Regions from separate parts of the Homo sapiens genome. Here region 2 is linked to region 1. Evidence: fine-mapped expression QTL. A gene starts in region 1. The other region holds a variant in brackets. All regions are shown on one strand. Distances are between the middles of the regions. Region 1 holds the start of GALNT13 (polypeptide N-acetylgalactosaminyltransferase 13). Region 2 overlaps GALNT13 (polypeptide N-acetylgalactosaminyltransferase 13).

Evidence for each region. PIP is the estimated chance that this variant, and not a neighbour inherited with it, causes the effect.
Region 2: its variant is the best candidate, but not a certain one, in a credible set for the expression of GALNT13 in nucleus accumbens (GTEx, PIP 0.89).

The regions. Positions count from the first base shown.
Region 1 is chr2:153,869,176-153,874,559 of GRCh38, forward strand. GALNT13 (polypeptide N-acetylgalactosaminyltransferase 13) reads left to right here and starts at 2,747. Exons shown (of 13, transcript NM_052917.4): 1 at 2,747-3,128.
Region 2 is chr2:154,312,231-154,317,614 of GRCh38, forward strand. The region is part of intron 9 of GALNT13 (polypeptide N-acetylgalactosaminyltransferase 13); the gene reads left to right. Among named protein-coding and RNA genes, the nearest start is that of GALNT13-AS1, 140 kb to the right of the region's middle. The variant G/T (reference allele first, on the strand shown) is at 2,115.

The sequences.
Region 1 (5,384 bases):
GCTTTCTTATATATGATCACAATACAATTAAATTAGGACACTTAATATTGATATAAAACTAATTTGATTATAAATAAAAGTCATACAGTTTAGATATTATAGTTTTTATTAATATTTTGAATTAGATTGTCTCAGTAATGCTCTTTATATTAATAGATATTATTCCCAGTTTGCTCTCCAATTCTGGATTACACATTGCATTTAGTAGTCATGGTTTTTAAATCTCCATTAGTCTGGAATATTTCCTCAGCTTTTCTTTGACTTTCATCACAGTGACATTTTTGAAAAGTATAGGCAAGATATTGTGTAGAATTTTCCTTAATTTAAGGCTTTCTTTGCTTTCTCGTGATTGCATTCAATTATGCATTTTTTAATCTGGAATCCTAAATCAATAATGTTATGTACTTCTCAGTGCATCATATCATGAGGCTCATGATATCACTTGGTCCCATTATTGGTGACTTTAACCTTGGTCAGTTGGTTAAGGTGATGTTTACCAGATTTATCCACTACATGTAATTTATTATTCGTTTGTAATTAAGGATCTATAGTATATTATAAAAACAGCCTCAAGTTATTTTTGTGTATGCATTCTCCTTGAAATATGGCATTATAGTTTCTCCCATCAAGACATGGACTATATTATCTATGTTTGGGCCATGTAACTTCCATGGCTAATGAGACACCAGCAAATGTACGTCCACAGAATCTCAGAGTACTTCACATTGGAGCTTGCACTCCCTTGTTGCTTTTTGGAGCCCTGCAACTACGACTACTGCTAGCCTATTGAAGGATGATGGGCTAGATTAAACAAAAGACAAAACATTGCAGCTGAGTCCCACACCCTCAAGACTAATAAGTATGCCACACCAGACAAGTGAGTGAAGCCATCCTAGATCTCTAAACCAAACTGAGCTAGCCAGGGCAGAAACCAACCTGACAACCCACAGAGCTTTGAGAAATTACAGATGTTTATTGGTTGGGGCTAATAAGTTTTGGAATGGTGTGTTATGCACCAAAAGCCAATACTTTCTAGGGTGATACTTTGGGACTACGTAAATATCCAATTACCCAAATAAATTTTACCAAGTTTATGATTCTGCCTAAGTTAAATATTATCACAAAGACTGCAAAATGGAATTGCGCCTTTTTTTAAGAGATGAAACATGTAAGAATGGGGGCTTATTTGTCTTTGAAAAACATAGGACTAGTAAGTAGCTGTATCAGCATCAGAACCCCAATCTTTTACCTGGTCCACAGTTTTTCTCAGTATGCCATGTAGAGGTGAGTGACCTGATGTTAGGACTGGAATTCACTAGAGAGAGCAGTAGAGAGACATTCCAGAGTGTTATGAGTGGGACCCTGTGTACTCACACATGCACAGAAGCATCTCTGGTAAATGCTCCATAATTGACGGTAGGGCAGGATGGACAATGTAGGAGGAGACATTAATACAGTTATTAACATAGAAATTTAAATGATACTTGACTCACGAAAAGATATAAAGATAATATCTCTGGAAATTGCCTTTCATGAGTATAATCAAGAATGGCATTGACATACTAGATTATGATTAATAGTATCATATGTTTGTCAAACGTGGCTGTTTAATATTTTTATGTAGTCGTTATATCCTCCCCCAATTCTGCCAAAAACATCCTATAAGATGTGTGAAGTGACACTGTGAGAAGCAAGGACCCCTGTCAGCCCTTATTACAAACAAGACAACTGACACCCGAAGGGCCAAAACTAGCCAAGAGCCACAGTGAATAAATTGCCAAGCAGGCACTTGAACTCGGCAATCCCAATTTCCTAGAAAAGTTCCTCTCCCATGGCAGTGGGGGACAGGTCCCAAGTCTTTGAGACGCTAATAATGTCTGCGTCTTAGGTTTCTGCCTTGTGCCAGGCACTGTTCTAAAATCTTTACATGTATTTAAACTCAGTACCATGGGGGTATTGGTACAACACATTAACTGAGACATTCATACGTCCAGGTACTTCGGAGTGGGTGTGTGTTTAATATCATACCTACTTGCCTGAGAAAGGAATTCAAAGCCCCACTTTTTTCTTTACCTCTTCATAAAAATTTGAGAGCCACAAGGAAGCGCTCTGTGTTTCCAGTACTCTTACAGTGCGTTCGGTGGCAGTAGTCACCGCCAACCAGAACACTAGGATCCTGCCAGGGTGTAGATACTGTAACCAACAAGAGGCCAACCTCCGTCCTTTCTGCGGAGGGCGCCGAAGCGTCAAGTACCCCGCAGCATCTCTCGGCTGGAGAGCCGACGGCAAGGGTGGGGTTGCCGGCGCTTTCCCCGAGGGCAGTCTCTGATCCTCCAGCTCCCCTCTAAGAGGCTCCCTGGTGCATTGGGCGAACGCGGTGCACGCAGGCCGGCTTTGGCGTTGTGGGGCCCCAAAGCGGCCAGGGGTCGCGAGGCGCCCTCCGGCGAGAGGAGCTGACCCCAGGGTTGCTCTTGGGGGCCGTGCCTGCCAAGTATCGCGGGACTTGCGCACATCGCAGAAGCGCCAGCTCCAGAAGCAGCTGGAGCGCGCTCGGTGCGCACCGCCCCAGCCCGGGGAGGAGCGGGAGCAGGGAGGGAGGAGGGCTGGGGGTGCTGGTTACGTAAATGATACTAGCCCAGTGAGAGGCCTCCAGGCTGGGGCTACGAGAGGAGGAGGGACCACGCGAGGAGGAGGGACCGGGAGGCGGCGGGCTGGGGTGGGAGGGGGGCGGGGGCCGGGGAGAAGTGACCAGGCGGCGGCGGCTCTGCTGAGGTGACAACGTGCTAGCAGCCCTCGCTCGCTCTGGGCGCCTCCTCGGCCTCAGCGTCCGCTCTGGCCGCGCTCGAGGAGCCCTTCAGCCCGCCGCTGCGCTATGAAGGCCCCTCTCTGGGGCTGGCCGAGGCTGGAGCCGGCTCCCTCTGCTCGCGGGCAAGTGTGAAGAGAGAGGCGCGGGCGGGAGCCGGGGCTGCGCGCGGCGCTCGCGGGCCGGCGCGGGTTCCAGGTGAGCGCGGACTCGGCGAGCCCCGCACTCGGCGCGGCCGGCCGGCGCCTGCTGGGCTTGATCTGAGGCTGAATCCCGTGTGTGGACCGCCGTTCCCTCTTCGCGGGATCGTTGGCCAGGATAGCAGGTCTCCGTCTCTTTCTCGCTTCCCCTCTTTTCCTCTTGATTGTCTGGGACGAGCTCCCTCTGGGCTGCCAGAGTGCCGGGGCTAGGTGCCGCAAAGTCCCGCGGCGAGTGCCGGGGCGCGGAGCCGAGCGCCCCGGGCCGGTCCCAGGGCAAAGGCAGGGGCGCGGGCGGACCTGGCGACGCGGCCTCCCGGGAGCTCCGAGTGCGCTCGCTTGCGGGGCTGCAGGTGTTGCGGGAGGACCGCGTGGCGCGGAACTTTCTGCCGCCGCCCACCTTCTGCTCTGCTTTTCTGGCTACCCCGGTGAGTTGTTGGTGGCGGGGGGGGGGGGGGGAGCGGCTCTGGCCCCCTCTGCGTTCTGGTGACGTTCCTCCGCGGGGGTGGCTCGGCCTCCAAGCCCAGACAACTTTCTCGCACCAGCTGCAGGCAGCCCCGGCTGCGTTGCGGGCGTTTCTACTCGACCCGACACCAGGCGCTCCCTGGGTCTTGGGTGTCTTCCTCGACGGTTGCCTTCGTATAGTGCCCCCTTTGCCTCGCTTTTTCAGAGTCCTCTTGCCTCTCATTCTCGCCGTGTGTGTCTCTGCCTCTGTTTCTCTTTCTGAGCCTTGGTCCCCTCAGTCCACACTCTCCGGCCATGTATCTGTTTTTTTCTCTTATTCTGTTTCCCTCTTTCTTTCTTGGGATATCTGTGTCCCTGTTAATCTGTCTTTCCTTTTGTCTCTCCGTTTTGCAACATTTGTTCTCTTTCTGTGTCTGCTTCTCGCAGCTTATCTCTGTCTCCCTCTGTCATCTCTCTGCCCCGTCTTCCCGAACACCAGCCCCGCGATCCCGAAGCGCCTTGGTTAGGGGAGCAAGCCCTGGCGCATCTAATGGGTATCTCCAGGTGCAGAGATTTTCCTGCGGGGTCAGTGGGGACGCGGAGGAGACAGCCTGCCCTTGTCCAGGCTGTCGTGGACCTGAAGGAGGGGCGCAAGGGGTTAGAGTGGAGGGCACCGCAGCAGGCTCCCCTTGCCGGGTCCGAGGGCGCTGCGCTGCTGCGAACCTGAGCGCACTGAGGCTGCTACTCTGGACAGCGAAAGCTGCGCAAGCCCCTCCCGCATACCCGATTCTTTGACTATGGTTAGTTGAATTTCCAGGAGGAGAGTCTGCCTCCCCAACCTTTATAGCCAGCTGCAGAAGAACGGACAGTGAGCAGGCAAACATAGATGCTTTGGGGTTCAGGGAAACTAACCTCGAAAGGGTGGGAGCTTTCTTCAGGCAAAGGTGTTGCTAGCAGAGGAGAGGAGCTTTGGGGACTGAGGTATGCCTGCCTTAAACTACCATGCATTCATTGCTTAGGAAAGCGGTTTCCTTGGAGAGATCGTGGTCAGCCTTCCCTGAAACAACATAACAACATAGAGGTTTTATTCGCAAGGCTAAAGGCACTTGGCTGCCAAAGCCCCCTTGAAATTTCTGGTATCCTTGAATATTTTCAGCTTTATGTGAAAGCTGCCTTTCCTCAGAGTCTCAGTCCGTCTCTCTCTCTTTCTCTCTCTCTCTTTTTCTGTGTCTCTCTCTCTCGCTGTCTCCCTGTCTCTCTCTCTCTGTCTCGTTTGCGTTCATGCCCTCTAGTGTTAAAGAAACCTGCTGGTTCGAGAATATTGAAAAGTAAGGTCAACCTATTGGTTATTTACTTTTGGACCTCTCACCTTCCGGGATAATTCTCCTTGTATTACACGCATCCTTTCCTTTTCCTCAAAGAATGACTTTTGCATTACATTACTAATCTTTCTTTCCCCCCGCACCCCCCTCCCGCAATCTCTGTTTTTTTTTTTTTTTTCTTTCCCCACGTCTCCTGCAGAATAAGAACCTTCATATTGAAACCCTGTTCGTTTGATTTGGGAATTGGATAGGTCTGGAGAATTTGCGTAGCCTAAGGCAGACTTTGAACATTAAAAAGATGCATTTCTCTGCACTGTTTGCCATAAACCAGGATTTCACATCTCTCCTTTAGCCCCTATCCACCTTCAATTCCATGGAGAATTTTCCTGGCTGCTTCTGCTTGTTTAAATAAATGCTTTTATTTCACCATTTCTGTGATGCTTATCCCATTCCAGGGCTTAAGGTACTTGCTTAAGTAGGGGCACTGTGTCTCGGATCCGCTTTGGAGAGGAAGAATAGAAAGCTTTTCTAAAGGAATTATAGGGTACTGCTGGTATAGATTAATTCCAGTTCGGAAAGTCCTGAGTGGGAATGTGAGAATGGAGGCTGTCTCAGATA
Region 2 (5,384 bases), 440 kb after region 1:
AAATGTCCATAAAATCTTCGCAATCCACATTCTTCTGCCATGGCTTCAGCCGGTCCCTCCGTTTGGGGTCCCTGACTTCCCGCAACACAGATAATCTGTTTTTTTTCCCCAATTGCTGGTAGCAATGAACATCTTTTGCAATTTTCTAATGACATTGGGATTTCTTCTGTAAAGAAACTAGTCATCCTTTTTATTCGTATGCTTTGTTCATTTTGCCATTGAATATTTTTGCCTTACTTTTATCTATTCATAGATCTTCATGTATTCTGGTGATAAATTATTTGTCTGTTATATACATTGTCAAGGATTTTCTCTGAGGTTATTACATGTGTGTGGTAATTTGATCGATATACAAAAAGATATTTTAAAAGAATTTAACTGTTGAAGTAAAGTCTATCTTAGCCTTTATGGCTTTTTTGGTTTATACATTGTTAAAACAATCTCCCCCAAGTATAGCACATTTTATGTGCCCCAGAAATATTTGTTAAATGATTTAGGCTTGAGTTGAACAAAATTGATGTTTTGCTTGTTTGTTTGATTTTTAGTAAAGTCAGTGGTCTCTCCGGGCCATAACCATGAACAGAATACCAGAATCAGATATCTTTCCTTATGAAAAGGGGCTTTGTTTGTATACATGGAACAAAAATAAAATTATTAGCTTGACAGTTAAAATTAAAGTTTTAAGTAAATCTATTAATGTGATTATATTACAGTAATTCTTGAATTGTATCTTGAATTGTATTCATGAAATAGAACTAATAAGCAGACGGTATAAATATTATTTGTTGAATATTACAAAAATATTGAATTGAAGATGGGTAGACCATTGCATCCTCATCAACTTTGATTAGCATTTCAACAATTATTTTGAATAATTATGTTCTCAAAATAATTTTATCATAATGAAATCTGGATAGTTTCCAACTATTTCTAAAGTGAATAGAACTTAAGTTCTAGCATATATGTACACATATGTGTATACATACACACACACTATATATATATTTATGCATATGTATATATATATATACACACACACTAGAACTTAAGTTCTATTCACTTTAGAAATAGTTGGAAACTATCCAGATTTCATACATATACACACTATATATATATATTTATACATATATATACACTAGATATCTATATACACTATATTTATATATGTATATATACACCCAGTAGAGATATATATATATATATATATACACACACACACAATATATATATAAATACATATATTTAGATGGAGTCTCACTCTGACGCCAGGCTGGAGAGCAGTGGTGTGATCTCGGCTCACTACAACCTCCACCTCCCGGGTTCAAGCGATTCTCCTGCCTCAGCCTCCCAAGTAGCTGGGACTATAGGCATGCATCACCATGCCCAGCTAATTTTTGTATTTTTAGTAGAGATGGAGTTTCACCATGTTGGCCAGGATGATGTTGATTTCCTGACCTGGTGATCTGCCCACCTTGGCCTCCCAAAGTGCTGGGATTACAGGTGTGAGCCATCATGCCTGGACCTAGTATATGTTGATTCACAGAATAAGTACTACCTTCTAGGGTTCAGATACCATGATCATTTATATATCTTGCTTCTGATTCTCCTTCAAAGAAAACATGGATACCTCTAGTCTAATCATTTTTTTTTGTATATGCAACCAATACAATAGTCTGAAATTTTATATTAATAAATTCTACCCCAATTGGATTGGATGGGTCCTTATTACTTTCCATTACCCTAAACCTGCTGAATTAGTCAAGGTAGGAAATTACAAAATTTTTCAAATTGGTACAAATGATCAAGAACACTTATGAAAAATGCATGGATTTTTGGTCAGTAGTTGGCTGAGTTTTTGTTTGATGTAGGAGTACTACGTCTGAATTAAATATTATTCAAGTACATACGGAGGCTTTATTATAACTCCTTTCATCTTTCAACCTACTCTTCAGAGTACCTCAGTTTTACTAGTTAAATCTAAGGTAACTAAAATTGAATAGCTTAAAATTATATGAGTAATTACACTAAATTTCAATTCTAATTTCTTAACAAAATTGAAGAGATCACTCTGACACTTAGTAGCAGTCATTTATATAATGTTATTGGTGTAGGTG[G/T]TTACACATTGCAGATTTCTTATCTCTCATACTCTCAGCTAAGTCCCCCAAATTAGATACTCTGGTGGATTGCATTTGTTTGGATTTATACTCATTGTCTTAGTCTGATTGTGTTGCTATAAAGGAATACCTGATGATGAGTAATTTAAAAAGAAAAAAGGTTTATTTGGCTCACAGCTCTGCAGGCTGTACAAGAAGCATGGCATCAGAATCTGCCTGGCTTCTGATAAGGGGCTCAGGCTGCTTCCACTCACGGTGGAAGGTAAAGGGGAGCCAGCATGTTCAGAGATCTTGTAGGGAAAGAAAGGAAGCAAGAGTGAGGGAGATGGGAAGTGCCAGTTTCCTTTTAACAACTAGCTCTCAGGGAAACTAATTGAGTGAGAACTCAGTCATTACTGCAAGGATGGCACCAAGCCATTCATGAGGGACATACCTTCCTTCACTTCCCATTAGGCCCCTACTTCCAACATTGGGGATCATATTTCAGTATGAGGTTTGGAGTGTCAAATATCCAAACTATAGTACTCATCTTTGCCTGGATTCCAATGTTGAAACACACTCTTCTTTGCCTAAATTCCTATGTTATACTCATTTTTTGGCTATTTTAAATATAATTTGAGTTCACATCTGGAATGACCCAGCTACATATACTCTTAGGAAAGTGATGCAAGAATGGCTTAAAGAATTAAGAAACCCAGTCTTTTCTCTACCAAATAATAATATAAGATGGATAAATTTCTCAGATATGCTAAATTGTCCCTTTAAAATAGTCACTTATAAAAACAAAACAAACAAACAAACATACCACAAACTTTTTTACAGGACATTAAACTCTCAATGACAGATTATCTCAGGACCCTAATAATTTACATTCCCTTGGTAGCCGTTCTTCCTCAGGATATTAATACAAATTATCTAGAAAATAAAAATTCTATACTTATTAGATATCTTTATCAACTGGAATTATGAGTTTGAGAGCATTGCAGTAAATCTTCAATAGGGAAGAATGCTAGACAATGGATCCAAGCTGGGATGAAAAGTTGCATCAGGGAGGCAGGGCTAGGGCTTTAAAAACAGAAGGGGAAACAATTTCTGAAATAAGAAGTTTATTTAACAAATAAGCCTTCTGCCTGATTTTATCAGAAGCACTATTAATGTGGAATTCTTGATGCCTAAAGGCTGGTGCATAACTGCCTTGCTATGAAATATCTGGTGTGAAAGGTCTACTTAAGACACATACACACACGTATACATGATTCGTTAACACATCCTCAGTGTGGTAGGTACTAATTGTATATTAATTGCCTAAAAATGTTTATGTTTTAATTACAGGAAACATTCACCAAAATTAAATGATTGTTATATTTTACAAATTGATTTAACTGGAGTTTCAAAATAATGAAAGACTTATTGTTGGTTACTTCAGTTCAGCAAGTGAATTGTAAATTACATATAATATTTGCACACTGAATTAAGATATATTCTAAGCACTCAGGGACACTGATAAAATGTATCAAACCGGATCACAAGGTCAGGAGTTCCAGACCAGACTGACCAACATGGTCAAACCCTATCTCCACTAAAAATACAAAAATTAGCTGGGCGTGGTGGCACAAGCCTGTAATCCCAGCTACTCAGAAGGCTGAGGCAGTAGAATCGCTTGAACCCTGGAGGCAGGAGTTGCAGTGAGCTGAGATCGCGCCACTGCACTCCAGCCTGGGTGACAGAGTGAGATTCAGTCTCAAAAAAATTAAAAAAAAATTTAAAAATCAAACAGTTAAATGTTTATAATTTATATCGTTGAAAATAAGATAAATGAAGTTAGAATGATACTATTATTATTACTGAAAGGTGTTGTGTCAGAATTGTCATTAGTAAGTGAGCTGTATTATGCCATTTTAACTTTCTAATTGTTTTGTTTTATAAACTTTGCACATTCTTAGTGTAACATCTGTCGTTAACAAAAACAGAGCAATACATTTGAAAATTGTGATCAACTAGGAATTTTGTACAACTTAAAAATTTAGAAAATTCTGTCATTTTAGCATGATTTAATTATGTTTTCAACAAAAATTTTTTATTAAAATTAAGGAATATAGATTACAAGTTCCTAAGTTTTCAATTTTTCAAAGTGAACACAAAATCAAATATAACTAAATATAAAACTAGCTGTCTCAGTCCATTTTCTTTTGCTGTAACACAATACCCGAGAGTGGGTAAATTATAAAGAAATGAAGTTTATTTAGCTCAGGGTTATGGAGATTATGGGAAGTCCAAAAGCATAGTGTTGGCCTCTGTTGAGGGCCTTCTTGCTGCATCATAGCATGGCAGAGGGCAAGGGAATGCTCGTCAGCTCAGGTCTCTTTTCTTCTTCTTTTGCCCCAAGTCCCAGTGTGGGGGTCTTACCCTGATGACTTTATCTAATCATAGTTACCTCCCAAAGGCCCCCCTCCAATCAGCATATAAATTTGTGGATTAATTTTCCAACACATGAAATTTGGGTGACACATTTAACACATTCAGCCTTTGCCTATGTTATATAAACAACAGTGAAAGGAATGGAGCTTTGACTTGAAAATACAGGTGGGCCAGGTGCGGTGGCTGATGCCTGTAATCCCAGCACTTTGGGAGGCCAAGGCAGGCAGATCACTTGAGGTCAGGAATTCAAGAGCAGCCTGGCCAACATGGTGAAACCCCGACTCTACTAAAAATACAAAAGTTAGCTGGGCGTGGTGGTATGCACCTGTAGTCCCAGCTACTCAGGAGGCTGAGGCAGGAGAATCTCTTGAACCTGGGAGGCAGAGGTTGCAGTAAGCTGAGACTGTGCCACTGTACTCCAGCGTGAGTGACAAAGCGAGACATCTCAAAAAAAAAAAAAAAAGAAGAATGGTGTAGGGTTTTTACTAAAAGGAGCTCTTATGAGGAAGAGCTTAGACATTTGTACAGATTGAGAAGATAAGAAAATAGATACAATTTTAAATTCTAGATCAATAAGCTTTCCAGAAAATGTTGTATTTGGAATTGATTTTTAGTGAAGTAAGCTACAAATTGAGTAATATCTAGAAATATTCAAAGGCTAGATGTTAATCTTTTAGCGATGTTCTAGTGAGAATTGAATAAGAAGCTGGATTTGATTTCTTATCCAAACTTTCTAACTCTAAAATTCTACCATCATAGAAACTTATATATCAATGAATAAAATCACATTATATTTTTTCTAATAGACTATATTAAAATGGAAAGAAAATGGATTTCGACTCAGCACGAGAA